Regions from separate parts of the Homo sapiens genome. Here regions 2 and 3 are each linked to region 1. The links come from fine-mapping of genetic effects on gene expression. Tissue or cell type: whole blood. Region 1 holds a variant in brackets; each other region holds the start of a gene. Each region is shown on its reference strand, or each on the opposite one. Region 1 overlaps RREB1 (ras responsive element binding protein 1). Region 2 holds the start of AGAP2 (ArfGAP with GTPase domain, ankyrin repeat and PH domain 2). Region 3 holds the start of RAB39B (RAB39B, member RAS oncogene family).

Evidence for each region. PIP is the estimated chance that this variant, and not a neighbour inherited with it, causes the effect. A credible set is the group of variants that fine-mapping cannot tell apart.
Region 2: it holds the start of AGAP2, and the variant in region 1 is the best candidate, but not a certain one, in a credible set for the expression of AGAP2 in whole blood (TOPMed, PIP 0.51).
Region 3: RAB39B starts here. The variant in region 1 is fine-mapped to the expression of RAB39B in whole blood (TOPMed, PIP above 0.99).

Annotation. Positions count from the first base shown.
Region 1 is chr6:7,141,993-7,152,233 of GRCh38, reverse strand. The region is part of intron 1 of RREB1 (ras responsive element binding protein 1); the gene reads right to left. Among named protein-coding and RNA genes, the nearest start is that of RREB1, 39 kb to the right of the region's middle. RefSeq lists a silencer at 1,272-1,437 and enhancers at 5,637-5,786, 6,045-6,715. The variant A/TTCATCA (reference allele first, on the strand shown) is at 6,274.
Region 2 is chr12:57,732,664-57,742,904 of GRCh38, reverse strand. It overlaps AGAP2 (ArfGAP with GTPase domain, ankyrin repeat and PH domain 2), which reads left to right and starts at 4,163. Exons shown (of 19, transcript NM_001122772.3): 1 at 4,163-5,826; 2 at 7,478-7,536; 3 at 8,226-8,313; 4 at 8,501-8,586; 5 at 8,732-8,879; 6 at 9,926-10,060. The coding sequence starts at 4,659. RefSeq lists enhancers at 945-1,004, 1,538-1,617, 8,076-9,275 and a silencer at 4,791-5,010.
Region 3 is chrX:155,259,972-155,270,212 of GRCh38, reverse strand. RAB39B (RAB39B, member RAS oncogene family) reads left to right here and starts at 5,722. Exons shown (of 2, transcript NM_171998.4): 1 at 5,722-6,139; 2 at 8,984-10,241. The coding sequence starts at 5,925. The coding sequence ends at 9,410. RefSeq lists silencers at 5,675-5,724, 5,735-5,944.

The sequences.
Region 1 (10,241 bases):
AACACTGAGAGAGGTTCCCTTAGGATACTGGAAACAACAGGAATAATGTGCAATTAGATACCAAGTGGACTTATACACACAGCTAAAAAACTCAGCATCACATCTTACTATCACTCTCCCATAAAGCCCCAGAACTCCCTATTATTTAGCAAGGTGATTTTCTAAAACTCATAATGCATCCTCAAATCAATGTCCTTGTGTATGTACCTACAAGGGAAATATAGTGAGAATATCCAACGTTTTGAAAACGAAAGCCATCTAAAAGTGATTTCACATAGTTTCTGTGATTTCACTTGCTTGGTTTATTTCTCCCCCATAGTCCTGTTCATCACAAGAGACACTCAAACTATAAGTAAATTCCTGGGAGCTTATAAATGATATGCTTTATACAGCCAAAATGTCCAAAAAGATTTGTGGTTTCAGACTTTTACACACTGTTCCCGTGTCAGTAATTGATTTGTGAGAACTTAACAAGATGATCTCTGCTCCTAGCCTCAACCTGGCAAGGCCACCTTCTCCCTGACCCTGCAGGGAACTGCAGTGTGTGCTCAGCAGTGGGGCTGCTGCCCATTGGCCTCACTAATGTTACCTCCCCTTTAAGCTCTACCAACTTGCACCTAAATCTCAGCCCATTCAAGTGTCATGTGCCTGCAATGTGCAACATCTATGCAGATGTTAAGGCCATGACCAAAACCAGTTCTCAGCGAAATGACTCCCAAGCCAGCACACCCCAAGCACTTTGAAGTCCCTGTTCTGCGTGGACTCCATAGCACAGAGGTTGCCAGGGCCTGCTGCTCCTGGGGGCTGGTTTGTAGATCATATGACTGCTGAAATCCCTTAGATAAAAGCAGGCATTGTCCACTTTTCCTTGAAATCTTGAAATCCTGGATAAGACCAGCAATCAAGTAACATTTCAATCCTCCAACAACCTTAAATCAATTGATCAAATTCTTCTCTTTGGGCCTCAGCTCCCCCCTTATACATAATACAATATCTAGTAAAAGCAATTTTAGTCAGTGTTTAAAGCAGACTGATTGCATTTATATTAAATAAAAGATAGGATTACGTGAAGGGGGCAAAGCTTTTAAAACAAACAATGAACCACCCAACAAATTTCCGCAGTATCTTTAAACTGCTCTGGAAGCATCAAGAGTATTAACTGAAAAAGCAGCTCCCTTCCCTCCTTCTCCATGTTCAGCCTCCAGCCGCACGGATGAGTTCTCTGTGCCTATGACTGATGCATGGAGGCTGATCTCCGGGCGGCCAGCAGCTGTTCAAATCCACGCCTGGATGCTTCGCTCACTGCACCTCCTGGCTCCACCACCCCAACCTCTCAACATGTGTCCTTGAGGCTCCGCCTACCCGGCGGATGTTACAAGCACACCATCTCAAATGCAGTCGCCATTGCAACAGGCTGCAGGTCGCTTATCACAAGGCACCGAAGACAAGCTCTTCCACCCTCGGCCACATCTCTCCTGCAAGCCCCCTCTGTGCCATCCCCACCCTGAAACAGTCAGCACACAGATCTGCCACTTGCTTCCTGGGAAGTCCTGGTTTTTCTTACTTTTCCATCTGCCCTGAGCATCTAACAGTCAGACAACGAATTCCTATTTCTGGTATGCAATTCAAGAAACAGAAATTAGTGGCATTTCCCTTGCCTGACAGTATGACCAATGTCTATACAACAAGAGAATACTTTCTACCTTCAGCATAGCAATCAGGAGGTATAGCTGCCATGCATATGCACAACTATAGTTTAATTTCAAAACTAATTAAAATTTCAAAGGGAACAATTTCTCTTATGGAGAAAAAACCCAAAACACACAAAAACCCTATCTGAATCAGGAACAGAAAAATTTATACCAACCTATATATGTTAACCATGCGTTACAGCAAACCTAAGTGCACAGAAGACTTAAATTCAGTAGTATTAAAAGCTAATATGACAATGTTTCAAATGTATCTATTAATCTGATTATTAAAACCTGGGTCCAGCAATGCTCCACACTTATGTATATAATATCAAACCACTTGAGAACCAGTAGCAGGTATTAGCAACTCTGGGGAGTTTTCAACCCTGGGATTTCCATGAAAATGTCCATTAATATATAACAAGGCCAAGAAAGAGTCTGGTATAGCACCATGGAGTGCTGAAGTGTTCTCTACCTATAAAATGGAACTACTGAGAAGAATAAAATTAGCAAATAACCTTGAAAAAAGAATAAAAAAAAAAAAAAACCAACCAGGCCAGGCGCAGTGGCCCACGCCTATAATCCCAGCACTTTGGGAGGCCGAGGTGTGTGGATCACCTGAGGTCAGGAGTTTGAGACCAGCCTGGCCAACATGGTGAAACCCCGTCTCTACTAAAAATACAAAAATTAGCCAGGCGTGGTGGTGCACACCTGTAATCCCAGCTACTCAGGAGGCTGAGGCAGGAGAATCGCTTGAACCTGGGAGGCGCCAGGTTGCAGTGAGCCGAGATTGCGCCACTGGACTCCAGCCTAGGCGACCAGAGCGAAACTCTGTCTCAACAAAAAACAAACAAAACCCAAAACCTAATAATTTCTGCTGAGTAAATACCTATTATTTTCCAAGTTAGGATTATTCCTCATGGCCAAAAAGCCATGTGGACACTATTCCAGGTGAGTTGTTCAATTCTGGGCACAGACATGAATTGTGGAAGAACACTGGGTAAAATGAAGACAAACTCATAAAAACAGAACAAGTCACCTCTCAAGTCCATTCCAGCTCTAAAATTCTATGGTTTTTTACAGTAAGTCTTAGTTGAGGGCACTCCTTCCTTCCAATTCACCATTTGATGGTTTAAATTTAACTTGAGACTTCCTTTAAGTTCAGTATTCCTTTTCTACAGAGACTATGTTTTCCAGGATGTCTATGACTTCTCTGGTACCTAGGGATCTTTGGTATCATTTGCTTTTAAAAATCCATGACATTTTATATATTCTTTTGGTGATAAATATGCACAATTCACATTAGGAATACAGACAAATGGCCAGGCGTGGTGGCTCACAACTGTAATTCCAGCACTTTGGGAGGCCAAGGCGGGCAGATCACCTGAGGTCAGGAGTTTGAGACCAGCCTGACCAATATGGTGAAACCCCGACTCTACTAAAAATACAAAAATTAGCTGGGTGTGGTAGCACGCGCCTCTAGTCCCAGCTACTCGGGAGGCTGAGACAGGAGAATTGCTTGAACCTGGGAGGCAGAGGTTGCAGTGAGCCGAAATCATGCCATTGCACTCCATTCTGGGCAACAGAGCAAGACTCTGTCTCAAAAAATAAAGGGAATACAGACAACCTGGTATGGTATTTGGACATCATCTGAATCTGTTAATGAATAACTTTTTTTCTACAAATCTGGGCAAAATATATAATATTTTAGTATATGTCTGACTATACTGAAAGGTTTATTCTAACACGTCATGTTAACTCATGAAGCAGCTGCACATCACTGAGGGGGAAGGAAAGTATTCAGAAATTAATTTTCCATATAAAACTCCTGGGTGTCAATCATTCTAAAGTATCTTTCAAACTTCCCTGTTTCCTTAAGCATAGCATGGTGAATCAATGTATGATTAATTCAGCCTTTTGTGGGGGTGACTCAGGATCATCACGATGAACAACTTACACTAGGCTGCCTCTGGAAACTAGTGACATACCCACCCCCCCCCACTTTACTTTTGCCACTGTACCACATGGCTCTGTTGGCCATGCTTGTTTTTCTCAATTGAAAATTTTCCTGAGATAATTGTGGATACACAGGCAGTTTTAAGAAATAACACAGAGGGCTCCTCTGTCCAGTCTGTGAAATTCCCCCAATGGGAATCCGCCATGCCGTTTGAATTCTTGTCTCATCCCCTAACATCTTTTCTGCTTGTTGTCAATGTGTCTCCTTCTGATGGCTTTTTTCCATCCCCAACATTGGCCTCAGAAATGTAGACTGGAAAATGTGAGACAAGGTGGCCAGGGCTGTATCTACAGTAAGAATAAATAGTGCTGAAGTGCAGGCCTAAAGGATCAATGGGAATCAAGGTAGGAGTGTTAGTACCAGGACTTCCTAACACCTTTGTGGCTTTGAAAACTTTATTTTACATACCTCTCCCCCCACGTATACCCTGCTGGCTCTCACTCACTCGCAAGCACATCGGCTGAATATTCTGGACCGAAGAATGCCAAATAAGCGACCTCTACATAAGCAATATACTACTTTTGAGTCAGCTAGCTAATCAACTGCTATATCCACAATGGTAATTGGCAATCCAGCAGTGTCCAGTGTCTTACTGTGAATACTGTCTACCAAGCCAATAATAGTTTGGAATGAATACACGCAGCTTAAAACACAAACTTTTTTTTTTTTTTCCTGAACTCACTGATGTTTCTGAGGAAGTTTTAACTTATCAATCACTGGTACTATGGAACAATTTAATTACCTAAGTTGAAGGAATGAAGTTATAAGAAAGATACAATGAAGAGCATTATGAATGTGCTTTAGAGACTTCAGTAAATAAGAAAACTGTCACTTTGTTCTCCTACTGCATTAGGAACTTCTCAAACAAAGAAGCTTGATGGAGGCAGACAGAGAGGGGCTTATCAGCTTAGGACACGGGATGGATGGTACAATTAACTGTCACACAGTCAGATATAATTCACTCTGATGAGGCCAGAGAAAGAAAACAAGGCAAAGAAAGGGCTCATCTTGTCCCTTTAGGTAATATCCAAATATCCCAGCACGGAAACCATCTTTTCCTCAAAGGTTATCTACACACGTGGCCTGAGAAGAAAGGCAGTAAGCCTTTGGGGAGTTGGGGAGAAGGAAGGAAAAGAAAACAGGAGGAGGAAAAAGGAAGACCTCTTTTCTGAACCACAAATGCCTCATGCTGCGCACTCCAAGCTGAAATGCAGTATGGTAGGTATTCTAAGGGGGAAAAAAACAACTACATTTCTTTCCTATTACTGATTCCTCTCTGCTTCACAGACCCAGCTCGGCCAAGTGGAAAACGGCTGCCATGAGTTCTGCAGAAGCTGCATGTCTTGCCCTGGCAGTCTGAAGGTGAAGCAGGCTTCAGAGGTGGACAGCTCAGGGAGAATCCAGAGAGGACACAGAAAAGCACACCAGGGCACCTTCTCCACGAGCCACCCACAGTCCATTTTACAGGCTAGAGCTCACCCTCTCAAAGTTAGAAGGTGCTCCAAAAACAGCTGGAGACTGGAGACCATAAACTACAAAATGCATGTGATGTTAAGATACTAAGAAAAGTACGGTTTCATTCTAAAACAGATGCACACAGAGAATTGTTTCTTCTGCCATGACAATACAGTTCCTTAGCTTTCAGAGTGCCAGACAAACTAGAATCAGAAACATCTTCCAACCAGTGTGAAGATGGAAGGAAAAAGAGCTCCTTTTCCTCTCCCTCCCCCACCACCTCCTCCCCACCAAAAAAAAAAAAAGAAAGAAGAAAGCCACGACACACCAGAAATAGCCTATGTGAGTCTGCTTCTAACAGCCAAAGGATGTGTGCACTATGAGCGGCTCCCTTGCAATGTGTGTTATAGTGAGCTCAAACATGACTATATATGGTATGTTTACGGAGTGAATGGACACAAACACGAAGCAGAACTTATATCAGACCCAAACTGGCTTTTAAAGAGCTCGGTTCCTCCACATTTATGGCCACAAGACGTCCCCTAAGTCAGAGCTAACTGTGGATACTTCCAGCAGTAATGTCTCCTGACTTGCTGGCACCGAGTTGCAGTGACTCCACCTCACTGCCCTCCCAGGCTGTCTGCGTGTGCACACACTTCCTTCTCCGTCCCCACCTCGCCTCCTCCCCTCCCATCTCCTGCTTTCCCCCTCTCAGGCCATCTACCCCCGGTCCCACAGAGACATAAATGCACATTCAAGAATGCTGCTGCTGAATGGGGCCTATGTTACATGACAGAGGGCATGGTAAGCGGGCCACAGACTGCTCTAGAAACAGATGGCAAGGCTGAGGCCCACAGCCGCTGCCTGCTTCTCACACAACAGGCTCCACAAAGTGTTTTATTCACATCCATGTTCTGCCTAGAAGGAAAGCCAGATACTGAAGTGTGTGTGTGTATCTGTGTGTGTGTGTTGGTGGGGGGAGTATAGTCTGAAGATGTATTAAAGTCCTGGGGGGCGGTGGGGAGACGGTGCGCAGAGCAGGAAGGAGAGGGATACGGAGAGGTGGCGTAGGGGGTAGGGAAAGAGAGAGAGAGAAAGAGAGAGGAAGGC[A/TTCATCA]CTGGCTTTAACAGTCTTGCCCAACCTGTTCTGCGGTATGTTCTGTTAACTCCTTTCTGGCAAATAGATGCAAACAGCAACCCCTTTCTTCCCTCTTCTTCTCCCCACAGGCATAGGGGCAGCTACAGGCAGAGAAAAGTCCCAAAGAAAAAGACGGGGCCCATTACTGGCTGAAATAAACCCATAATTTTGGTCATCTAGTATAAGACTTCCACTATCAGCTACTGGGGCTGACATTTCACTGGAAACTACCAACCTCACAGGCCCTCTCCATCTCCCAATTCTCCTCCTGACCCTGCAAAATAGGTTAATCGAGGTTAGGTCCTCTAAAATAGATACATGGAAATTAGGCTGAGCTAGGTCCAGTTTTCACGCACTTGAACAAAGCACTAAGGTGAGAAGGAAGCATCAAGTTCTTTTCTTCTTCTTCTTCGGTTGACATTAGGCATTTACAGGGTTAATAAGGGCAGCCTGAAGACCAGAAATTTACCTGCTTAGCAACAGAAGCATCAGCTAAGCTGTACTGGTTGTTTTGATACAGGAAAAGCAGTTTCTACCTGGTGAAAATTCCTGGTGATGTTTCAGTTGCCATTTTAAGCAACACACATACTAATCACAGGTAGAAGCCAGCAAGAAACTATGGGAAAAGGAGAAAAGTCCAAGGAGACTTTGCTCAGTTGAAAGGTCCAGGTCAAAACCAACCACCAAAACATGCGACCACACATGTAAACCTGCTCTGAAAATTACAACAGATCAGAGCTGAGAAAACTGCTCTTGGAAGCACTAACACACAAGCTCGTTTTCCCTCTAACTTGTTGTTTATGGCTGCTTTGTCTTCACATGGACCTTCAAGATTCTTCAGGTAGTGGAAAGAATGGGTGTCTTTTTTAATCATAAAAAGACAGATCTTCCCCTCTACACGGTGAGACGAAGAAGAAAGCATGACTCTCACAAAAGATTACACTTTCCCCCCTTAACTATGTTTGTATGTCGCAATTTTATAAAAAATGCAGATGTAACCCAGGGCCTTCATAACCTCGCTGAAGGACAACAAATAAATATATCTACTTCAAAATTCAACTACAGAAAGCTTCTTCATTTTCAACAAGTGACTGTTTCATTTTTGGAAGCTCCAGGATACCAAGGCACATAGAGTTGGTTGCTGTAAGATGTTTACTGCTGCCTTAACAGAAATGTATCTCCTTGGGAGAAGCAAGGCCTAAAAGCAGTTAGAACTGACAATTTGAACCAGTTGTTGAATATGTAAAGCACAGTAGAAAAAGATTAAAATATACTTCATTAACTAAAATACAAAGAAATAGAAATAATTTGTGAAAAAAAAAAAAGGAATAATGTCAATGTATACAACCAGAGAACACAGCACCTATATAATTACACAGGGCCAAAGAATGTCTATGTGAGAAAAACAAAACAGAAGTGAAAATCCTAACATTAATGCTATCACCTTTGGATAAGACCATGTTTCAAGAGCAGAAGAATGAGAAATTAAACAGTTACTTATAAATACTCTTCAATACCACATTGTAAAGTTTGGTTTTGACAGTTTCCCTTAAATTCAGTTTTAAAAATTAAGTTTCACATTATAATATAGTTGACAAATTAAAATTGTATATGTACAGTGTACAGGTGAGGTTTTGATACATGTATACATTGTGAAATGGTTAAATCAAGCTAACATATCTATAACCTCATATATTTATTTTTTGTTATGAGAACATTTAAGATCTTAAGTTCTAAACTGAAAACATTATTTGTGCATAAAGCTCAAAAAGAAAAAATATAATGACTTAGGAAATAATAAAACTTTCTAACTTCAACCCAATTTAAAGGAAAATTTGGAAGTCACATGTTTGAGAATATAAAAAAAAAAGTGTGCAAAACCAAGCCACAAAAACAATTCCCCCTTTAATAAAGTAAAATACTTGCACTTATTCAGGATCCCTAGACCAACAGTTTGAGCAAATTAAAACCTTATTTCTGAAACTTACATTTGAAAAAATGTAAGTTGGGTCAAAGAAATTCTAGTGTGGACAAAATGGTGGTATTTAAAGCAAAAATTTGGCCTATGCAAAAAAAAAAAAAAAAAAAGAAAGAAAAAAAGGCTGCAGTGATGCACACTGGTCGCCGGCAGAGTGGGCTGCAGAGGCCAGTTGTATCTAACAGTTGTGCTCAAAACAACAAATGGTGCATTCATAAACTGCAAAAGCAGAGGCTGTTCAGAGGCTGTAAAGTCTGCACCCGAATGATGAGCAGCCGACTTTGCTGTTGTTCCACAGAAAGGGAGTGAAAAAAAAGGACTGAATTCAGTTAGAAGCACAGGCTGTCACTTCAGCGGTGGCAAAACGGTCTAGATAAAGAGGCCCCAAGCACCATTTACTCTCTTCCAACAGGAGCTGGGTCTAATGATAATTGAGTCAACACCTCTACCTAAGATAATACTGCAAGAGCCAGTGTCGGGGGAAAGCCCAACTAGAAACCAGAACATGCACCTCCCCACACCCTTCTTGGTTTAAGAAAACATTCAGCACCACAAAACGCATAGTCTCAGACCAAGGGAGTGAACGACCATAGCCTGATTACCTGTGACACTGCCTCTCCATGCCCTTAACAAAAGAAACATCTGGTACCAGCTACTCAGCATCCCTGAAAACTGTCAGAGTTCCAACTTCTTAAAAAATTAATGAGCCGCATTTACACCTGCCAGTGCTGAAGGCCCATCAGGGCTAGCATAGGAACCACAATGCCTCACTTAATAGAAAACACTCGGGTTTGCAGCAAGCAAGCAAGCCAGCCAGCATCAGATGGGAGAATTTCCTTATGTATCATTTCCTAACCCTTTTAGCTGTATTTTCCCCAAAAATCCCAGTGGCTCAAATGTATTCATTTGTCTCAAGACAAGTTTCCAACACAAATGTAAAAGTGACCTGTTTCTAACGCAGTTTTGAAAGCTTTATTAGGGCTTTGTATTTGCATCGCCTGGGAAGCTTCCAATGCCCCAGCCACTGGTTCATGCTCCACCAGAACCTCCTGGAGAGGGGTCCCAGCATGTGTAGAAGAGAAAAGTTATCCCCCCATGAAGAATGAAGAATCACTATTAAGAGAAAAGCGACCACCAAAGGTGGTGCAGCAAAAGTGAGGTAAGTCTCAAAGTGGAAAGAGGGGGTGCCACGTAAAGTCACTGAACTCATTCTAGGGTCCTAGAGTGGCCGGTGCTGGGGTCCTCCCTGCCCGGCCTTGGGGCAGAAGTCAGTGCCCTGGCTTGGTAAGCTAGCCCCACGTGGCTCCGCCCATCACATGGCTGCAGAGGCGCCAGCTCATGAAGCGGGCCTGCTGGGGGTCAAGCCTGACCCCACGAACTGTCTCAGACTAAGGCAGGGCACACTCAGCAAGGCGCCTGGCAGCAGGCAACCTTTAGCCACCGGAACAGCCTGATGGTTACCAAACAGTGACCTGCTGCCCTCACCGGTGATGTACTTCCAGTACAGAACATCGAGAAACTGCGTCCTGGAGGGAGACTTGACACCGAGGGCAGGCGGGAGGACACAAGGGCGTCCAGCTTTGCGGGGGGACGCACCCGGTGGTGCCGAGGGCAGCGCAGCTGGGAAGGGCATGGGAGCCGGCTCTCGGAGGAGGGTGTAAAAGCGGAAGCCACGAGAACTGGCTGGGTTTTGTGTGGTCCTCCACCTCCATTCTCAGAAAATAGCCTTTTTTTTTTTTTTAAATTAAGACGGAGTTTCACTCTTGTTGCCCAGGCTGGAGTGCGGTGGCGCGATCTCGGCTCACTGCAACCTCCACCTCCCAAGTTCAAGCGATTCTCCTGCCTCAACCTCCTGAGTAGCTGGGATCACAGGCGCACGCCACCACGCCCAGCTAATTTTTGTATTTTTTTTAGTACAGACGGGGTTTCACCATGTTGGCCAGGCTGGTCTCGAACTCCTGACCTCAGA
Region 2 (10,241 bases), not on the chromosome of region 1:
ACATGGAACATGGTAGTTTTTGTCTTTTTATAGGTTACTTTCCTCCTTCATAACTGATTTTCCCCATAATCACTTGGCCTATTTATTTATTTTATTTATTTTTGACGTGGAGTTTCGCTTAGTCACCCAGGCTGGAGTGCAGTGGCGTGATCTTGGCTCACTGCAACCTCCACCTCCTGGGTTCAAGTGATTCTCCTGCCTCAGCCTCCCAAGGTGCTGGGATTACAGGCATGAGCCACCACGCCTGGCCTCACTTGGCCCTTTTAAACAGGAGGTGGCCTCAGTGGGTAGCTGCCTGAAAAAGGGTTACATCGTAAGACATAAGGATACAGGGCTCATTGGGATGTGTAGAGAGGGCAATGGGTACAAGTGTATACTAGAATGCAGGGCTGTGAGGGTAACAGACCAAATGTGCATGAATTCCTGTGAGAGTTTGAAATCCGCAGGTCATCAAGAGTTTAGGATTGCACCTCGGACCTAGCTTGCCATATTCTCCCAGAACCAACACCCATCTTAATTAGCCACCTCCCACAGGAGGCCCTGGGACACTGTTAAGATTTCTCCATCCACCTGGCTGGGAAATCATAGCAGGGACTGGCTGGCAGGGTTGATGGGCCAACACTAGAGGGGGTGGGAGGTGCAGGAGGTAGTGCTGTCCCAGGCTGTGGGTTTGAAACTCACCAGTCAGGAAGTGAGGTCGACAGACGGAAGGGCGGGCAGGGGCGGGGAGTTCTGGGCACAGCAGAAGGGGCCTTCTGAGGTTTGGGGGCTGTAGGGCCATGGGCCTCAGGGCCAGAGGTGGTTGTTAGCCTGGCAAGACAGGTCTGGGCAACATGCATGCCCAGAGGCAGTTCGTTGTAGCTGCAGTGAGAGCAGAAGTCAGACGACATGAGGTGGCCAAGCAGGCTCTAAACCGCCTCAGGAAGCTGGCAGAGAGGGTGGACGACCCCGAACTCCAGGACAGCATCCAGGCCTCATTGGACAGCATTCGAGGTAAGAGAAAGGTCAGCCCTCAACTTGGGTGTATCAGGGACTAGCAGGTGCATAGAAGGTTTAGCTGTATCATATATCAATTCCCAGTCAGCTACTTCCTAGTCCCCAAGATGGGACTCTGGGAAAGAATACATTTAGGGAGGATGGAAAAAGACATGGGAGGTATCATTCTTTCTCTTTCCCTGCTCTGATCCTTCTCCCAGGAGATCAAAATACAGGTCCCTGTTGAGCTGACCTTCTTGGCAATGAAGAAATGTGTGAGCATGGGGAAGATAGGCTGTGACAGACTCATGGTAGACTTGTTCCCTGCCTGGGGAGTCCAGAGCAGGAAGCAGTCTGGGGCAGCAGGTTCTGGGACTGGATAATGAGTTCATTCCCAGGACCCACAAAGGATCAGTGACCTCTTGTTCTCCAGCTGTAGAGAGAAACACATGCACACACATACACACACACACACACGCATGCACATTGAAGTACACCATGCAGAGAATCTCAGGCTCCCAAGCGCATACTAACTCTCACACACTATGCTCTGCAGAGCCAAAGTGCAGATAGGTCCCCAGAACTCTTCTTGGTCCCCTCTCCTCCCCTTGCTCCTGTTCCTGTCTTCCCCCCACACACCTTCCGCTCTACCTCCTTAGTGCCATTAGAGCAAGTGATGACAACACAGGGAGGAAATGCTGCCATGGCAACACCATCCGCCACATCCTCCTGCCCACCCCAGGCTTCAGTCCTGTGGTGGAGCCCTGGCAGGAACAGCTTCTCTCCATCCACAAGGCCCTACCACTGAGGAACTGGTGGAACTGGAGGTTGTTCCAGCTCGCTGTCATTCCATTCACCTCTGATGCAGCAAAGAGCTAACAAAAGCAGCCTTCTTTGCTCATGAAAGGTGTCTGGTGGAAACACTTCTTCCATCATATCCTGATCTCTTCCAGCCATTTCAGTCTTCTCCATTGTTACCTGCCTACCTGGGTGGTTGTCAAGAGATCATTCTTTCCCTCAAGGACACCTCCTGCCAGACCTCTCTGCTAGTACACCAGAGTATAACTTGGGGAAGGAACAGCTTGCTTTGGATGCCTAGTGGGACAGTCTGATGATCCCCTTCCCATTGTTCTTCGGAGGCTAGTGCCCCTCTCACCTCCTGTCCCATACCCTTTGCCAGGAACTACACCTGAAGCTTCCCCTGACAGCCTTAGTGTTTGGAAAGGCAGACCAAGGGGGAGTGGGCCATGGGGCCTCCTAGGGAGAAACTCTAAGCCCCACCCCTCTCAAAAATAATAATGATAATAATAATAAAGGAGAAGAGCGGTTTAGGCCAGGCAGAAAAGCTGTGCTTAGCTCTGGAGAGGGAGGAGGGTGAGGAGGGGTGGAGGTGGAAATCCCTGAGAAGGCTTCACTCCTCATAAGTGATTTGTTTTACTCCTTCTCTAAGAATTAGTATTCTGTTCCCATTGAACATAAAGGAAAACCGAGGCCATCAAAGGAGGGAAGTTTAAGCCAGAGCCAACAATTCTCCTTCACCCTCTCCATCAAAAAACACTACTGAAGGGTCTCCTGTCCTGGGGATGGTGTCATCTTGGTTCTGTAGGGAGGGAGGGAGAAACTGCTGAGCCCCAGGACAGAACATTGGAGGGATTGGATACAGGCCTCTGGGAGAACAAAGGGCTCCTGGCATCCTGGCTCAGCCCCCCCACCCTCAGCCCCCCACCAGGCCAAGCACGCTGCGGGCTCCTGCCTCCAAGAGCCGCCCACGGCAGCACTTATTATAGTCTCAGCTGCGTCAGGAGGGTGGGACGCCAAATCAGGGGACTGCTGTGACTCCCCAAGTCCCGGGAAGGGGTCTCCAAGGCTGCAGAGAGACCTTCCTTCGCCCATCTTACCCCACCCCCAAGGGGTCTCAACCTCTTTTCCACTTTGGCCTAACCACTTCAGGATTCTCACCTGGCTGGAGGATAGAGAGCCTTGAACTCCAAGACCCCTAGAGGGGTGGGGGACACGGAGCAGACGGTTTCCATTCACTCTGCCTGCCTCCTCTTTAATCTTCTGAAAGAATCCCACTCAGCAAACCTCAGGAGACTGAAAGGGAACCCTGAAGAGGCCGGCTCTCACTGCCTCAACTGAAGGGTCCTTATACTTGGGGAGTGAAATCCTCCACCTGTGGGTAGCCAGGTGTCAGGGCAGTGCCTCCACTAATTCAGCATCCCGCGGTTGGTCCCCTACCCACCATACACACGGATTCCTCTCTGCTTCTGCCCGCTGTTTCTGAGGCACTCTTGGAGCTACGGTTGCTATGGAGACTGGATGCATTTTGGCATGGGGGGGTATCAGTCTAAGACACATCCTTCTCCCTCCTCCTAGAGCTGGAGCCTTTGACTTACCCTGTGGCCTGGGCTCCTCCAGCACTCAGATCTCTCCCTTCTCTCCTACCCTGCTAAGTTCCATGTTTGTCCCCATCCCTGGGGAACATTTTCCAAGTTCACTTTGGGACAGTCGAGCTCAAGTCTTGGCCCCGTCAAAGTATTAAATGTGGTGGTGTGAGTGGGAAAGGGAGCTGGGTCATGAGAACGGGAACCGTCCAGGTACCTGGGGGAGACAAGAGATCCTGGGGGAAGGGATTTCAGGGCCCCCACTTTCCCACTTCATCTTCCCCAGAATTGGCAGTGACCCTGGGTTTGCTCTGTTTACCGCGGCCCCTGTCCACCCAATAGATCGATTTTCACCCTTATCCCTAAATGCCATACCTCACAATCGCGCTTCCTAACCTTGGTGCGCGAGAGGAGGGGGCTAGGTTGTTGGAGGAGGTGAGTCCAAGTCCCAGGAAATCCAGCCCAGGATTTGGGAGAGAAATCCAGCCCTGGATTTTGCACCGCCCTCGCAGACATCGGTGCTGGTGGAGAAAAGGTGGGGGGGAGATAGGGTGGGGGGGCCTGGGGGCCGCCTCCTCCTCAATGTGAGGGGAGCGCCCGGACACAGCGCGCATCCGGACCAAGCCGAGCCCAGGCGAGGCCCCCGGACTCTTCGCCCGGATCTCACGCCCCTCCCCTCCCAGACCCCAGACCCGTGGGTTCCCACCCACCTCCCGTTCCCTCTTTCCTCCCCCGCCGCCTCCTGTATCTCCATCCCCAGCATCCTCCCCGCGCCCCTGCGAATCCCCCGCACGGCCAGCCCCACTAGCTTCCCACCCTCCTCTAGACCCTCTTTCCGACCGCATCCGCGGCCCCTGTCCCTTGAGTCCCAATTCCCCGCCCCTGCCTCCCCCGCACAGGTTCGTTTCCCCTAGCCTCCGGTCCCCTTTTCTGCTCCCTTTTCCTCTCTCTCCCCCATTTGCCCCCACTACTGTCCTCCCCGCCCTCCCCCACCCATCTCAGCGCCCCCACCCAGGCCGGGGTGGACGGTCCGGCGCGCCTCCCTGGAGCAGCACCAAGGTCCCGGGGCTCCAAGAGGGTGGGGGCGCAGGGCGGGGAGCATGGGGAGGGGGCGCCCCATGTGATGGGAGGGGGGCGCAAGCGGAGGCGGCGGAGGCGGCGGCGACAGCGGAGCCGGGCCGGGGGCTCAGCGGGGTCCGGGGGCTGGGGGCAGCGAGCAGGGCGGCCCCATGGCCGGGCCCCCCTGAGGCAGTCCGGGGGAGTCCCCTCCCCTCCCCAGCTCGGGGGTCTCCGGGCCCCATGAGCCGGGGCGCGGGCGCGCTTCAGCGCCGGACAACGACCTACCTCATCTCGCTGACCCTGGTTAAGCTCGAGTCGGTGCCTCCGCCGCCGCCTTCTCCGTCTGCGGCCGCGGCCGGCGCCGCCGGTGCCAGAGGCTCCGAGACTGGGGATCCTGGCAGCCCCCGAGGCGCGGAGGAGCCGGGCAAGAAGCGGCACGAACGTCTCTTCCACCGGCAGGATGCGCTGTGGATCAGCACGAGCAGCGCGGGCACCGGGGGCGCGGAGCCCCCAGCCCTGTCCCCGGCTCCGGCCAGTCCGGCCCGCCCAGTCTCCCCCGCTCCCGGCCGCCGCCTCTCCCTCTGGGCCGTCCCTCCGGGACCCCCGCTCTCCGGGGGACTGAGCCCCGACCCCAAGCCTGGGGGCGCCCCCACCTCCTCCCGGCGCCCCCTGCTCAGCAGCCCGAGCTGGGGCGGCCCGGAGCCCGAAGGCCGGGCGGGCGGCGGCATCCCTGGCTCATCCTCTCCGCACCCTGGCACCGGCAGCCGGAGGCTCAAGGTGGCGCCTCCTCCGCCGGCTCCCAAGCCTTGCAAGACCGTGACCACGAGTGGAGCCAAAGCCGGCGGGGGCAAGGGCGCGGGTAGCCGCCTGTCATGGCCCGAAAGCGAGGGCAAGCCCAGGGTCAAGGGGTCAAAGAGCAGCGCCGGGACTGGAGCTTCGGTCTCTGCCGCCGCCACCGCCGCCGCCGCCGGGGGAGGGGGCTCTACAGCTTCGACCTCTGGTGGGGTCGGGGCTGGGGCTGGAGCCCGAGGGAAGTTGTCCCCTCGGAAAGGCAAGAGTAAGACCTTGGACAACAGTGACTTGCATCCGGGACCGCCTGCCGGCTCTCCTCCTCCGCTAACCCTCCCACCAACTCCGAGTCCAGCCACTGCTGTCACCGCTGCTTCCGCGCAGCCCCCCGGGCCTGCACCTCCAATCACTCTGGAGCCTCCAGCTCCGGGGCTGAAACGGGGCCGGGAGGGGGGCCGAGCATCCACTCGTGACCGCAAGATGCTCAAGTTTATCAGCGGCATCTTCACCAAGAGCACAGGAGGGCCTCCTGGCTCCGGGCCCCTTCCCGGACCCCCCAGCCTGTCTTCTGGCAGCGGGTCCAGGGAGCTGCTGGGCGCCGAGCTCCGCGCTTCCCCTAGTGAGTTGAGTCAGGGCTTGAGAACAGGGAGGGAAGGGTACCTGGAATGCTCAGCTTGGGGTGGAGGAGCGAGGTCCAGGAAACTAGGGAAGCTTTTCTCTGGGGTGGGCGGATGAACCAAGCTCACCCCTCTGTCAAGGATTGGGGCAAAGAATAGGAGTCCTGAAGCGGGGCGAGTAGCTACATTGTGCGACAGGAGAAAGGACTTGATTTCAGAGGGACTCAGCCTCAGAGCTTTCTGGGAAAGTAACGTCCTTGATCAGAGTGACTAGAAAATTGCTCCCAGAGAAGCCCAGGACCCCACTTCCAGCCTCAGCTGAACTCTGGGAGCATGGAAACGGGGCTTTGCCGTGTTTAGAGCGACGTTGAAGGTGAAGGGGATGAGGAAGCCTCAGTTTCCCCTGAGCACTTGGGGCAGGTGGCATGACAGTGACCTTGCAGGCAGCTTCTCGCCAGGGACTAGTCGTCCCCTGGGCTGAGAGCAGGCTAGTGATGTTTTTCGTGCGGTGAAGGCGGATTGGGCGGTACGCGAGTCCGCGGGGGCTGGAACGTGCAGAATATTTAAATGTGAAGTGAGAGGGGGCGGATAGGAAGCCTCACTTCCCCCACTGCCCACCCCCTCCCCAGAGCCGCATTGAAACCCACCCGGGGCTGACCCTGGAGTGAGTCAGGTGGGGCGGAACTGCTGCAAAGGCAATCCGTACCCCGGGAGACTTGGGAGGCGGTACGGGGAAGGTAGTGTTTTTTACGGGGGCAGGGTGTCTATTATTATTACTATTTTCCTACTGGAGGAGATAGGCAGGAGACTCTTGGTTCGGCTCACACTCCCGGGAGAGGAGGCGGGTCCGGGAGCGGAGGCGGCCCCCGGGGTTTGGCTCCGGAGCGGGTGGGAGCAGATGGCTCCGGATCCCAGAGTTCCCGCCGCAGCTGCGGCGCCCCGGGAACGTCCGGCCGGTGTCAGGCGCGGGGGCTGGACCTGGCTGGCGGAAGGAGCATCCTTTCCCCCGGGCCTGTGGCTTCTCTCGGCCAGGCGATGGAGCCCTTCCCCACAGTTCTTTTGGAGGGCGTTTGTGGGGAGGGTGTGGGAGATGGAGGCATAGGAAAATCCTAGCTCTTTCCCTTGGGCTGTGGGGAGGGGTCCAGGGCTACAGTGCCGTTGACCTTGAAGAAGGGGAGGGAAACCCCTCACCTCAGTTTCTCTCCTGTGGAATGGAGGTTGGGGAAGACACACTCTCTTCTGTGTTTCAGCACCTCCTCCCAGGGTCTGCCCTGGGAACCAGTGGGTTAGGGAGGAGCTCCTCTTCTATTCTTTTTCCAGAGGGAAGAACCTGCCACTGTCAGAGCCCTGGTCTCCCTGTCTGGGGCCAGGACCCGCGTTTGGGGATGTGCTTTAAGGGAGATGCCAACTGAAGTATTTTTGTCTTGCTAGCTCCGTTGCTAAGCAACCACTGAGCGGCAGCAACAGCTGGGGGAGAGTGGCTGGGATGGGAGGCCTGGGGACCACCCTCAAACCTGTCTGTTGCACACACCTCTCCAGTGCAGGCAGGGTTGGGGGGGGGTTGGAAAGCTGCAGAGGGAGGAGGGGTGGCTCAGTGTTGGGGGTCCTTCTGAGCCAGGAGCCTCCCCTCTTACTGCCCTTCTCCCGTTACAGAGGCTGTGATCAATAGCCAGGAATGGACTTTGAGCCGCTCCATTCCTGAACTGCGCCTGGTAGGTAACCCAGTCCCCTTGCCTATAGGGAAGGCTGACCTCCCACCCACTGCACTCTCAGCTCTCTCCCTTCACCTCTCCTTCTCTCTCTCTCTCTCTTTGGGAATAGGGAATCGTTTTCCAGTTCTCCTGAGAGTCTGCCTTCATAGCACCAACATGGGGTTTGCTACAGCCTCCTCACAAGTTTTTCCTATCTAGTCTTTATGCAGCCATCCCCTTTTTCCTGTTTGTTCATGGTCCTCCTCCAGGCTTCTCATTTCTGGTATCTGCCCTTTGGCCTTCATGTTGTACTGCCTAGAATTGGGTAAAGTTTTCCAACTAGTGCCTAGAGCTGTGACATGCTACAAACACACACACACAGAGACACACACACACAACATATCTAGTATGTTTTCTAAACAACCCAACACACAAAAAAGCTGGTACTGAATTGCTGACATTCTTCAGCTCGTGCTCCACTTTGAGCTTGGGATCATTTCTTACCACACTCATGCCCTGATCCTCCCAACTGCTCTGATCCCCCCAGCTGCTCTGATCCTCCCAACTGCTCTCTCTGGAATGACTGTCATCCAGGCCCTGTAGGGTCCTGCTTGGATGACTTATCTCTCTGGGTTTTCTGGAGTGTCCAGACCCATGCATCCTGCCTTCTCTTATATCCCACAATTTCTGCTCCACAACCTTGCCCTCAGGGTGTGCTGGGCGATGCCAGGAGTGGGAAGTCATCGCTCATCCACCGATTCCTGACTGGCTCATACCAGGTGCTGGAGAAGACAGAGAGTGAGTTCTGAAGAGCCATAGTAAGCTAACCATTGGGGTCAGGGATCCAGGAGTGAGATCAATGATTAGGCAGGTGTGGAGACCAGGGGGGAAGGATGAGGCCATAATAGCAAAAGCACTGGGAGCATGGGGAGGTTTGGTGACCTGTCACCTCTGACCTGTTACCCCTTCCAACTCTTCTGGACAGGTGAGCAGTACAAGAAAGAAATGTTGGTGGATGGACAGACACATCTGGTGCTAATCCGAGAGGAAGCTGGGGCACCTGATGCCAAGGTGAGGGTGGAGGTGGTGGGGGACAGGCTGGCTGGGGTCAGCACTGGCCAAAGGAGAGGGCTCTGGTTTCCCAGGTCTTCATCTGGATTGGGTCCAGAGGAGTAGACCTGTCTGACTTTCCATTTGCTCCCTCACTCCCCGCAAGTTCTCAGGCTGGGCAGATGCTGTGATCTTCGTCTTCAGCCTGGAGGATGAGAACAGTTTCCAGGCTGTGAGCCGTCTCCATGGGCAGCTGAGTTCCCTTCGCGGGGAGGGACGAGGAGGCCTGGCCTTGGCACTGGTGGGGACACAAGGTAAGGAGGGGTTAGGAAAGCACTGCTTTCAAGGGAGGCCCTAAGGAGGCTACTGGGATATTGCCCAACATGGGTGAGAACTTGGTAAGGTGTGGAAATGGCCACTTGGATTATAGTACCCTTCTGGAGGGAGCCTGGTCTCCAAATAAGGGAGTCATGAAACCAAACAATAACTTCCCAAGGTCTGAGCAGAGAAAAGGGGATCTCCAGGGAGGAAAGGACAGCTATAGTAGCCATCTCCTTGCCTCTCCTGAAATGTCACCTACCTTGTGTTCTGACACTGCCATTTCCTAGTGCCACCATCCTAGGACACAGAAAATCTCAAGTCCTAGGGTGGATAGGAAACCTTTTCCATCTTCCTTTTTGCGACAGCTGGGTAAGGCTGACACCTTTTAAAGGAACTTATCCAAAAACAAAGTGAAAACACAAAGGAAATGATGATGAAAAGAAGAGAGCAGAAAACCTTTTAGTTCTCAGAGAAGTGACTCAGAGGCTCCCAGACTCTGCCAGGGCCAGGAAATGCTTTTCCAGCACTCCCCTGTGTCGAGCTGGTGGGACTTGGTCTGGATGCCTGTTCTGCTGGTGCCTATCTCCACCTGTTGCTTGCATCCTGGTTTCTTGCTGCAGAGTGGGCAGTCCAGCCATGACCCATGGGCACCCAACCTTTTCCTAGTTCACAAGCTGGTGTCCTCCCACCAGTTCAGGGTTCTATGGATTTGCAGGGCAGGGTGATTGTCGCTCGCGCCTGGGTCTCAGCTATGTAGACCTTGTCAGGAAGCACCACTCAGCAGCTCTGGAGTATTCCTTGAGGACACACACACACACACACACACACACACAGCTCACCCAGCTAGGTGTGTGAACTGGGCCCAGTACTCAGAAAGGGCTTATGTACTCCCATTCCACCTGGTCACAGAAAAGATGATCTCTCACACCCCATCCCCAGTGGACCCAGCCTGAGGGCCCAGTGCAAGGATAAGGGAATTGTGAAAAATCGAACAAGGTGGGGCTCCTTGTTCAATCCTGCCCCTTTCCTGTCCCCTCAGACAGGATCAGTGCTTCCTCCCCTCGGGTGGTGGGAGATGCTCGTGCCAGAGCTCTGTGCGCGGACATGAAACGCTGCAGCTACTATGAGACTTGTGCAACCTATGGGCTCAATGTGGATCGGGTCTTCCAGGAGGGTGAGTGTAGTGATCTCCAGCATATGTGGGAAGCCAGAGCAAGGGGCCTGGGATATTCTCAGTGGTCAGGCATCCAGGCCTCTCTCTGTGAGTGACAGGAAATTAGCCTTTGTGGGAGGGAGGAGAGATCAGGGAGGCCAGAGAAGGTTTGCTTAATAGTCGCAAGGTCTTTCTGGGCTGG
Region 3 (10,241 bases), not on the chromosome of region 1:
TGGTAAGCTCTAAAGAACCACTAAAAAATACTTCAAAATATAGTGAAAAAATTTTAATCAAGAATTAAGAAACTCAAATGGTACATCAAAAAATATTCACTTAGTGCAAAAGAAAGCAATAAGAGAAGACTAGAGGAACAAAAATATTAAGACATACAGAAAAACAAATAAATGGCTGACATAAATCCCACTATATCAATAAATAACATTAAATGTGAACAGATTAAACAATCTGTTTAAAGAAAAGCAAAGATTATATGGCTAGATGTTTCGAATGGTACAACTATATGCTGTCTACAGCAGACACTTCATATTCAAAGATACAAAGTGATTGAAAGTAAAATGATGAAAAATACATATCATGAAAACACCAATCACAAGAAAGCTGAAGTGACTATACTAATATCAGAAAAAATAGACCTCAAAACAAAAACAGCTACTAAAGACAGACAATTCATAGTGATAAAAGGGTCAATCTATCAGAAAGATACAATTACAAACATATATGCATCTAACAATACAGCTCCAAAATATGTGAAGCAATAACTGACAGTTAAAGTGAAAAATCATTCTACAAGAATAGTTGGAGGCTTCATTCTCCACTTCCAATAATATGTAGAACAACTGTACTGAAGATCAACAAGGAAACAGTAGACTTATGTCTAAGTCTTTATAAGCCAACTAGACATAACAGTTTATACATATATATATTATATATAATATATAATATTTTATATATAATATGTTATATATTATATATAATATGTTATATATATTTATTATATATATATATATATAAAACAGCAGAGGATATATTCTTTTCAAGTGTACATGGAGCGTTATCCAGAATAGACTATATACTATGCCAAAAAAACAAACCTCAAGAAATTTAAAAGGATAGAAATAATACAAAGTATGTTTTCTGACCACATGGAATGAAATTAGAAATCAATAGTAGGAAAAAGATATAAGAAACTCACAAATATGTGAGAATTAAACAAAATACTAATAAATAACAAATGGGTCAAAGAAGAGATCAAAAGGAAAATCAGAAAATACTTTCAGATAAATGAAAATGAAGACACAAGAAAGATACCAAAACTTATGGGGTTCAGATAAAGCAATGCTCAGAGGGAAATGTATAGCTATAAGTGCCTGTATTAAGAAAAAAAATCTCAAATCAATAACTTAACCTTCCAACTTAAGAAACTGGAAAAAGATGAGCTAACTAAAAGAAAATCAAGCAAAAGGAAGAAAATAATAAAGATTAGGGCAGAGATAAATGAAACAAAGGGAATAGATTAACAATAGAATCAATGAAACCAAAAGTTGGTTCTTTGAAAAGAACAACAAAATTGCCAAACTCTTTTTTGGTTCCATATGGAATTTAAAGTAGTTTTTTCCAATTCTGTGAAGAAAGTCAATGGTAGCTTGACTGGTCATTAGAGAAATGCAAATCAAAACCACAATGAGATAACATCTCACGCCAGTTAGAATGGCAATCATTAAAAAGTCAGGAAACAGTGGCACGTGCCTGTAATCCCAGCTACTCGGGAGGCTGAGGGAGGATAACTGCTTGAGCCCAGGAGATGGAGGTTGCAGTGAGCTGAGATCATGCCACTGCACTGGAGCCTGGCCCACAGAGCGAGACTCTGTCTCAAAAAAAAAAAAAAAGGAAACAACAGATGCTAGAGAGGATGTGGAGAAATAGGAACACTTTTACACTGTTGGTGGGAGTGTAAATTAGTTCAAGCATTGTGGAAGACAGTGTGGTGATTCCTCAAGGATCTTGAACCAGAAATACCATTTGACCCAGCAATCCTATTACTGGGTGTATACCCAAAGGATCATAAATCATTATACTATAAAGACACATGCACACATATGTTTATTGCAGCACTGTTCACAATAGCAAAGACTTGGAACCAACCCAAATGCCCATCAGTGACAGACTGTGTAAAGAAAATGTGGTACATATACACCATGGAATACTATGCAGCCATAAAGAAGGATGAGTGCATGTCCTTTGCAGAGACATGAATGAAGCTGGAAACCATCATTCTCAGCAAACTAACAGAAGAACAGAAAACCAAACACCACATGTTCTGACTCATAAGTGGGAGTTGAACAATGAGAACACATGGACACAGGGAGGGGAACATCACACACCGGGGCCTGTTGGGGGGTGGAGGGGTAGGGGAGGGATAGCATTAGAAAAAATACCTAATGTAGGTGACAGGTTGATGGGTGCAGCACATCACCATGGCGCGTGTATACCTATGCAACAAACCTGCATGTTCGGCACATGTATCCCAGAACTTACTATTTAAAATAAATAAATAAATAAATAAAAACTATTAGGACTAATAAGCAAGTTCAGCAAGGTTGGAGGATATAAAATCAATATGCAAAAATTAATTCCATTTTATAAACTTGCAAGGAGCAATCTAAAAATGAAATTAAGAAAACAATTCCATTCACAATAGCATCATAAATAACAAAATACTTGAAGTACAAAACTTATACACTGAACACTATGAAACATTGTTAAAACAAGTTTTAAAAACCTAAATAAATGGAATGATATCCATCTTGTGCTCATGGATTGAAAGACTTAATTTTAATAAGACAGCAACACTCTCCAAATTGATCTACAGAGTCAAATCAATACCTATTAGCATTCCAACTGCCTTATTTGCAGAAACTGATAAGCTGTTCTTAAAATTCATATGAAATTGCAAAGGGCTCCAAATAACCAAAACAATCTTTGAAAAGATTGGATCCTCCACAGTAGGAGGACTCACACTTTCTGATTTCAGAACTTTCTACAAAGCTACAACAGTCAAGAGAGTGTCATACCAGCATAAGGGCAGACATATAGACCAATGTGTATTGACCATTTCATTTCCTCTTCTGGGAATTGTCTCTTTATATACTTTGTATTTTTTATGTGTAATCTTTTATCATTGCCTTACTGTTTTAAAACAAATCAGCTTTATTAACATAGAAATAGAAAGTCCAAAAATACATCCATACATCCATGGTCAATTGATTTTCCAGAGTGTCAAAATCATTCCATAGAGAAAGAATAGTATCCTCAATAGAGTGCTGGGATAGCTGGATATCCACATGCAAAGGAATGAATTTGAACCCCTTCCTCACACCATGCATAAAAACGAACACAAAATGGATCATAGACCTAAATGAATGAACTACAACTATAAAACTCTTAGAAGAAAGAATGAGTAAACCTTCATGACCTTGGATTGGGCAAAGTATTCTTAGACATGACACCAGAAGCATGAGCAACAAAATAGAAACTCGATAAATTGTACTTCTTAAAAATCTAACTTTGTTTTTCAAAGGACACCCTCAAGAAAGTGAAAAAAAAGAACACACTGAATTGGAGAAAATATTTGCAAATCATATATGTGATAAAGGACTTGTGTCTAGCATATATAAAGAACTCTTATAACTCAATAATACAAAGACTAGTAATCCAGTTTAAAAATGGGCAAAAGATCTAAGTCAATATTTTTCCAAGGAAGATACACAAATGGCCAATAAGAATGTAAAAATATGCTTGAAGTCATCAGTCGTTAGGGAAATGCAAATCAAACTAGAATAAAGTACCACTTCACATCCATGTTAGAGAGAATGTGGAGAAATTGGAACCCCATAGGCTGCCAGTGGGATGTAATATGGTACAGCCACTGTGAAAAAGTCAGGCATTTCATCAAAGGGTTAAACATAGAGTTGCCACAGGACTGAGGAATTCCGTTCTTAGGTATAAATCCCAAAAAACTGAAAACAGATATTAAAAAAAAAAACCTGGCACATGAATATTCGATGGTAGGATTATTTAGAATAGCCAAAAGGTGGGAACAACCCAAATGTCCCTCAATGAATGAATGGATAAACAAGATATGGTCTATCCATATGATGGAATAGTATTCAGCCACAAAAAGGAATGAAGTACTGATACTTGCTACAGTGTGAATGAACCTTGAAAACATTATGCTAAGTGAAAGCAGCCAGTCACAAAAATGCACATATTATATGATTTCATGTATATGAAATGTTCAGAATAGGGAAATTTATAGAGACAGAAAGTACATTAATGGTTGCCAAAGGCTGGAGGAACATGGGATAGAGAGATGATAGCTAAAAGGTTCTGGGTTCCTTTTTTTAAAAAATATATATACATATTTTATTATACTTTTAGTTCTAGGGTACCTGTGCAGAACGTGCAGGTTTGTTACATATGTATACGTGTGCCATGTTGGTGTGCTGCACCCATTAACTCGTCATTTACATTTACATTAGGTAAATGTAATCCCTCCTAATGCTATCCCTCCCCCCTCCCCCCACCCCTCTGGGTTACTTTTTGAAGTGATAAAAATGTTATAAAATTAACTGTGGTGATAGTTGTATATATCTGTGAGTATATTAAAAACCTATGCTAAGAATTGTTCACTTTAAATGGGTGAATTGTACAGTATGTGAATTTTCATGTTAATGAAGCTGATTTTTTTTAAAGAGTAAGGCAACGATAAAAGATTACACATAGAAGGCCGGGCGCGGTGGCTCACGCCTGTAATCCCAGCACTTTGGGAGGCCGAGGCGGGCAGATCACAAGGTCAGGAGATCGAGACCATCCTGGCTAATACAGTGTAACCTTATCTCTACTAAAAATACAAAAAATTAGCCGGGCGTGGTGGCGGGCACCTGTAGTCCCACCTACTCGGGAGGCTGAGGCAGGAGAATGGCATGAACCCGGGAGGTAGAGGTTGCAGTGGGCCGAGATCGCGCCACTGCACTCCAGCCTGGGCGACAGAGAGAGACTCTGTCTCAAAAAAAAAATAAAATAAAATTACACATAAAAAATACAAAGGATATGAAGAGACAATTCCCAGAAGAGGAAATGAAATGGTCAATACACAAGACTTGGTATTGACCTCATCAGTAGTCAGAGAAATGTAAAAATAAAGCAATGAGACATATTTTTATTTAACTAAATTCTATTGAGAAGAATTAAGAAAGAATAAAACATACATATGATGCTTGAAATAATGCAGAGCGATGGTCTTTTCACACATTGCTGGGTAGAATTTAAACTGTTAAATAGTTTTGGAAAGTAGAATGCCCATGTCCGTTAAATTTAAAATACTTATACTCTTTGAATTCATGGCCCCTTTTTTAAGACTGTAGCTCACAGAAATAAAATACTTGTGGCTACACTTTAAAATAAGTTATGACAAAAGGGAAATTAGGTGGAAATGGAAAGATATTTATGTTGCTTTATTAATTGCAAAAAGCAATTATTAATTGAAAGTAAGGCCCCAGTTTAATTTTTGTAAAAACAAACAGCAATAAATGCATATAGGAATACAAACACATATAATATTTGTGTGTTTATGTGAGCATGGAAACACTTGTAGACTAATATATAATTATGTGCCTTCCCTTTTTTGTGCAGTTTTGTATTGCTTTGCTAGTTTCAATGAAAAGGTATGACATTGGCAGTTTGAACGACAGAGAACAGTTTTAATGAACAGAGGGTGGGTGGGGTAGTTAGAAAGGGAGGGATCGCGCTAATGTTGCAGCCATTTTGTGTGCGCTCCTCTTACAGATAGTGCGGCGGCCCAGGCGTCGCGTCTACGCGGGGGATTACAGTAACCCGGTTGTCAGTGATGAGTCAGAGTGCGTGGTGCTGATGCTGCTGCCATTTCATCACCTTTGCGAGCGCAGCATCCATCCCTCCGCTCTCCCGGCGCCTGGGCCTACCCAGCTTCGGGCTCCCAGGCCAGCGATGCGCTCGCGGCTGAGCTAGATCCTGCCGAGCCGCGCTCTCTGAGGCGTCGGCGGGGCGCCCCCTCCCGCCGTCCCCGGTCCGGGCCAAGGAGACCTGCAGAGCCGCGGCCATGGAGGCCATCTGGCTGTACCAGTTCCGGCTCATTGTCATCGGGGATTCCACAGTGGGCAAGTCCTGCCTGATCCGCCGCTTCACCGAGGGTCGCTTTGCCCAGGTTTCTGACCCCACCGTGGGGGTGGATTTTTTCTCCCGCTTGGTGGAGATCGAGCCAGGAAAACGCATCAAGCTCCAGATCTGGGATACCGCGGGTCAAGAGAGGTTCAGGTGGGAGCGCAGTCCGGGCCCGCAAGCAGTGGGAGGGTCTTCGGGGTTTGCACCGCCTCTGGGGAGAGAGGACTTCCTGGTTCTAGGTGCGGTCCAGGAGGGCAACACCAAGGGTCTTGAGGATTCTGCCGAAGCCCACCTTCGGCTAACCCGGAGTTTAGTGCAAGGAAAGAAGCGCCCTGGCAGGGAAGGCCGGTCAATAACACATATTGCTTGCACCACAACTCCACCAACCTGCCCTTTGGTGGCTAACAAACTAGCTGGAATTGATCTCTGTATCTGTAATTCATCAATCTCAGTCCCTATGTTACATACTTTCAAAAACGTTCCCAGGTCATCCTAACATAACTGACAGAGATTTAAATACATAAATACATGTGTATTATGTTTTATTTCCACATCTGTGTGTGTGCACATATATATGCTAACATATGTTCTAACATGAAATAGATACGATTGATTCCTTCTTGCAACCAGCACACATTCAGTGATCATCTACTATGTGCCAGACTCTGGGCTTGTTCCTGGGAAAACAGTGTGAGGAGACTCACACAAGGGGATGCCATGTAATCTAAACAGACAAAGCCCCTTCATTCTTGGAACTTCTGTGCTAACATAGTTGAGGGAAATAGATAATCAGCAATTACGAAAGTGTGTCTTGCTCATATTTGTATGCCCACTCCCTACTGTAACACTTGGCACAAAATGAACATGCTTAATTTCAATCAATGAATTCATTGAATAATCAATGAATATGTTTACTTTCACTCAGAACCCTTTGCTTTTCTATTGTAGCATGTATTATTTGTAATTATATGTATGAACACAGAGGAGGAAAGGTTAACTGGAGAAGATGAGACCGGATGAGTATGACTGCCTAAGCAAAGACAGGAAACGCCCAGGGATAGGAAACAGCATGAATAAAGACAGAAGTGAGAGGGAGCAGAGTGTACACAGAAAACTTTGCAGAGAACAATTTGAACTAAAGTAGAGCAGCAGGAACCAGATCAAGAAAACTCAATAGCCCAAGTTTATGATCATTTACTCATTTATCTATTGAAAACTAACTAAGCATAGAAGATACTGGTTGGGTAATTGAAGAGGGGTAAGGAGAAGAAATAATTACAAACTTAAGTTACCTCCAGCTCCCCACTTCCACAAACACCACTGTGGAAAATATCCTTGTACAGGTTCACTTTGAACTTGCGATTGCATTTCTCCTAAGCAAAGAAAGGTATCTTTTATGTGTTTGTTGGAATTTCTTTCTATATGAACAGCCTGTTCATATCCACTGCTTATTTATTTATTGGGCAATATGGACTTGTAAGAGTACTTTATAGATTAAGAATATTAACCCTTTCCTGTCATGTATGTTGTAAGATATATTCCTAGTTTATCATCTGTCTTTTCACATTATTTAAGATTTTTTAATGTAGGGAAGAATTTAAGGTTTATGTAGCCTTATGTCCATGCTTAGAAGGCCTTTGTCACTTTCTTTGCTAAGTACTCACAAACAATTAATGTAATAATATATTCCAGAGTTTTGACAGTGATCTACAGCTTGCTTGTTGATTTCTTGAATCAACCTTCTCACAAATCAAAACCTTTGTTTGTTCATGTCTAAATTTTCTGGTAAATCTACCATTCTCCATGAATCTTCAAACCTAAGAGACGAGAAATGCTTTCAGTCCCCAGGGCTGATTTGCCTGATTTTGGAGACTTAAAGTCATTTGTAAGTTTTACTTTTACCATCATCTAGCTTGGACTGTAGGTCCCTGGACAATGCTTGTTCTGCTAACATTGAGCCATTTTCTCTAAGCTATTGAGTCCTTCGTTGTCTATCTTCTTTATCTGAGGAGACAGAAAACCTAAAAATAGACATAGGTAAAAAAAATCACAGTAGTCTAAAGCAAGTGACTGCAGAGACAAATAGGTCCATACCCTGTAATAAGCTTTAATACACTGTAAGCAAAGTGCCATAATGTATATTTATAATGAGGTTCCTCAAGTCAAGAAGTTAAAACATGTGAAGTTTCTTCTGATGGCTCCTGAGTTGAGTTGGCCTCTCTGAAATGTGTCAGGAAACAGGGCTGAGAGGCACTTTGCCTGAACCCTTCGCCATCTCTCTTTTTCCCATTCCCACAGGCCTTGAAAATAAAAAATAAAATTGTGTTTCTCCTCACAGAAGAGATTGAGGATCCCTGTTAGCTAATAATAATAATAATAATAATAATAAACAATAATAATAATGGAAAGAGAAAAAAACATGGTAATGATAAATGGAAAAAATGGAGTAGCAAGATACCTACTTTAAATATTTTGTTAACTATCATAAATTCATTTCTATGTTTTAAAAATCCTGTTTCAACTGCTAGCATTTGTAATGAACTCTCCACGTCACAGAACACTTTAATATCCATTGTTTCATTTTGCCTCATGGTAACACTGTGACTTGGGTATCCTATTTTGCAGAAAAGGAAGTCTCTGTCAGTTATTCAGATTTGGGGGGTGGGAGAGTTAGTTGTAGTTTTACCTGAAGGCAAGAAATAGAACTCAGTTATGTCCCAGGGTCACTCTCCAGTGCTGAATCCATGGAAAATGCCTAAAAGTTCATGAACATTCGTTTCTAGAAGATGCCCATCTCAAAGTTTGGCCCAATTGGAAACTCACATATTAGTAGTAGTATGGAATGCCATTTGTATTCCTTTGTTTTTTTAAAAAAAAAGAAAATCATTTTTATTAAAGGACTGTGTCACTAACCAGGAACACTTGAATATACTGAGTTCATTGACATGCAGAAGTTTGGGCACAGCCTTTACTCTTTACTTCTTTCTTGTGTTTTAGATCCATCACTCGCGCCTACTACAGGAACTCAGTAGGTGGTCTTCTCTTATTTGACATTACCAACCGCAGGTCCTTCCAGAATGTCCATGAGTGGTTAGAAGAGACCAAAGTACACGTTCAGCCCTACCAAATTGTATTTGTTCTGGTGGGTCACAAGTGTGACCTGGATACACAGAGGCAAGTGACTCGCCACGAGGCCGAGAAACTGGCTGCTGCATACGGCATGAAGTACATTGAAACGTCAGCCCGAGATGCCATTAATGTGGAGAAAGCCTTCACAGACCTGACAAGAGACATATATGAGCTGGTTAAAAGGGGGGAGATTACAATCCAGGAGGGCTGGGAAGGGGTGAAGAGTGGATTTGTACCAAATGTGGTTCACTCTTCAGAAGAGGTTGTCAAATCAGAGAGGAGATGTTTGTGCTAGTCAGTTCTTTTATTTCCAAAACATGCTCTCCTACTTGAACTGAAAAGTAAGAGAAATAAATAGAATCTTTGTGTAACTGATGAGAACTCAACCTCCATTTGGATACCAAGTGAGCCTCCCTCTCAGGGGGACTCTGACAGACTCGTGTGCGGGTGGATGGGGGTGCCTGAGTGCTGTGACCAAGGGACTGAATTGCTGACATGGGCCAGGCCAGGCACTGTTTTGTGGCCCATGCTAGGCAGTGGCTGCTCCATGAGCCCTTTGTGGACCACATGTTAAAGGCCTGGGGTTTAGGAAGCTAAGTCCCAGGAAAACATACCTACAGACAGGACAACTGTTCCTTGGTATTTGAGCTCACTTATAGGCCATGAACATAAAGAAATACATAAAGGGGAAAAAAGTTTCACAATGGGGACAATTAGCATAACTAAACAAAGATTATGAGCTCTACTTATTCCGTGAGAATACCCTGCACCAAAGGTGTTTGCTGGGTTTGGTTAAAAGGTACCAATTAGCTTTTAACAGCTTTCTGTAAAATGAGGAACACAGACCAAAAGGTCTGGTGTTCAAGTAAAAATGATGTGACTATGGAAAGGAAGGCAATCGACACAGTTATTAGCACATTTCAGAAAATGAACACCCTTGTGATAGAATTACCAGCTGTATGAAACAAATTGTCCCATGCAAATTACCCTATAACTAGGAAAGAGACACTATAACCCAAATGCCATACCCCCTTTTTCCTTTGACCATGCCTGGGGTTTCAATGCCTTGGCACCTGCAATCTGGAAGTAAACAGTCTGCTTGCTTCTTCAGGCACGTGACAGTGAC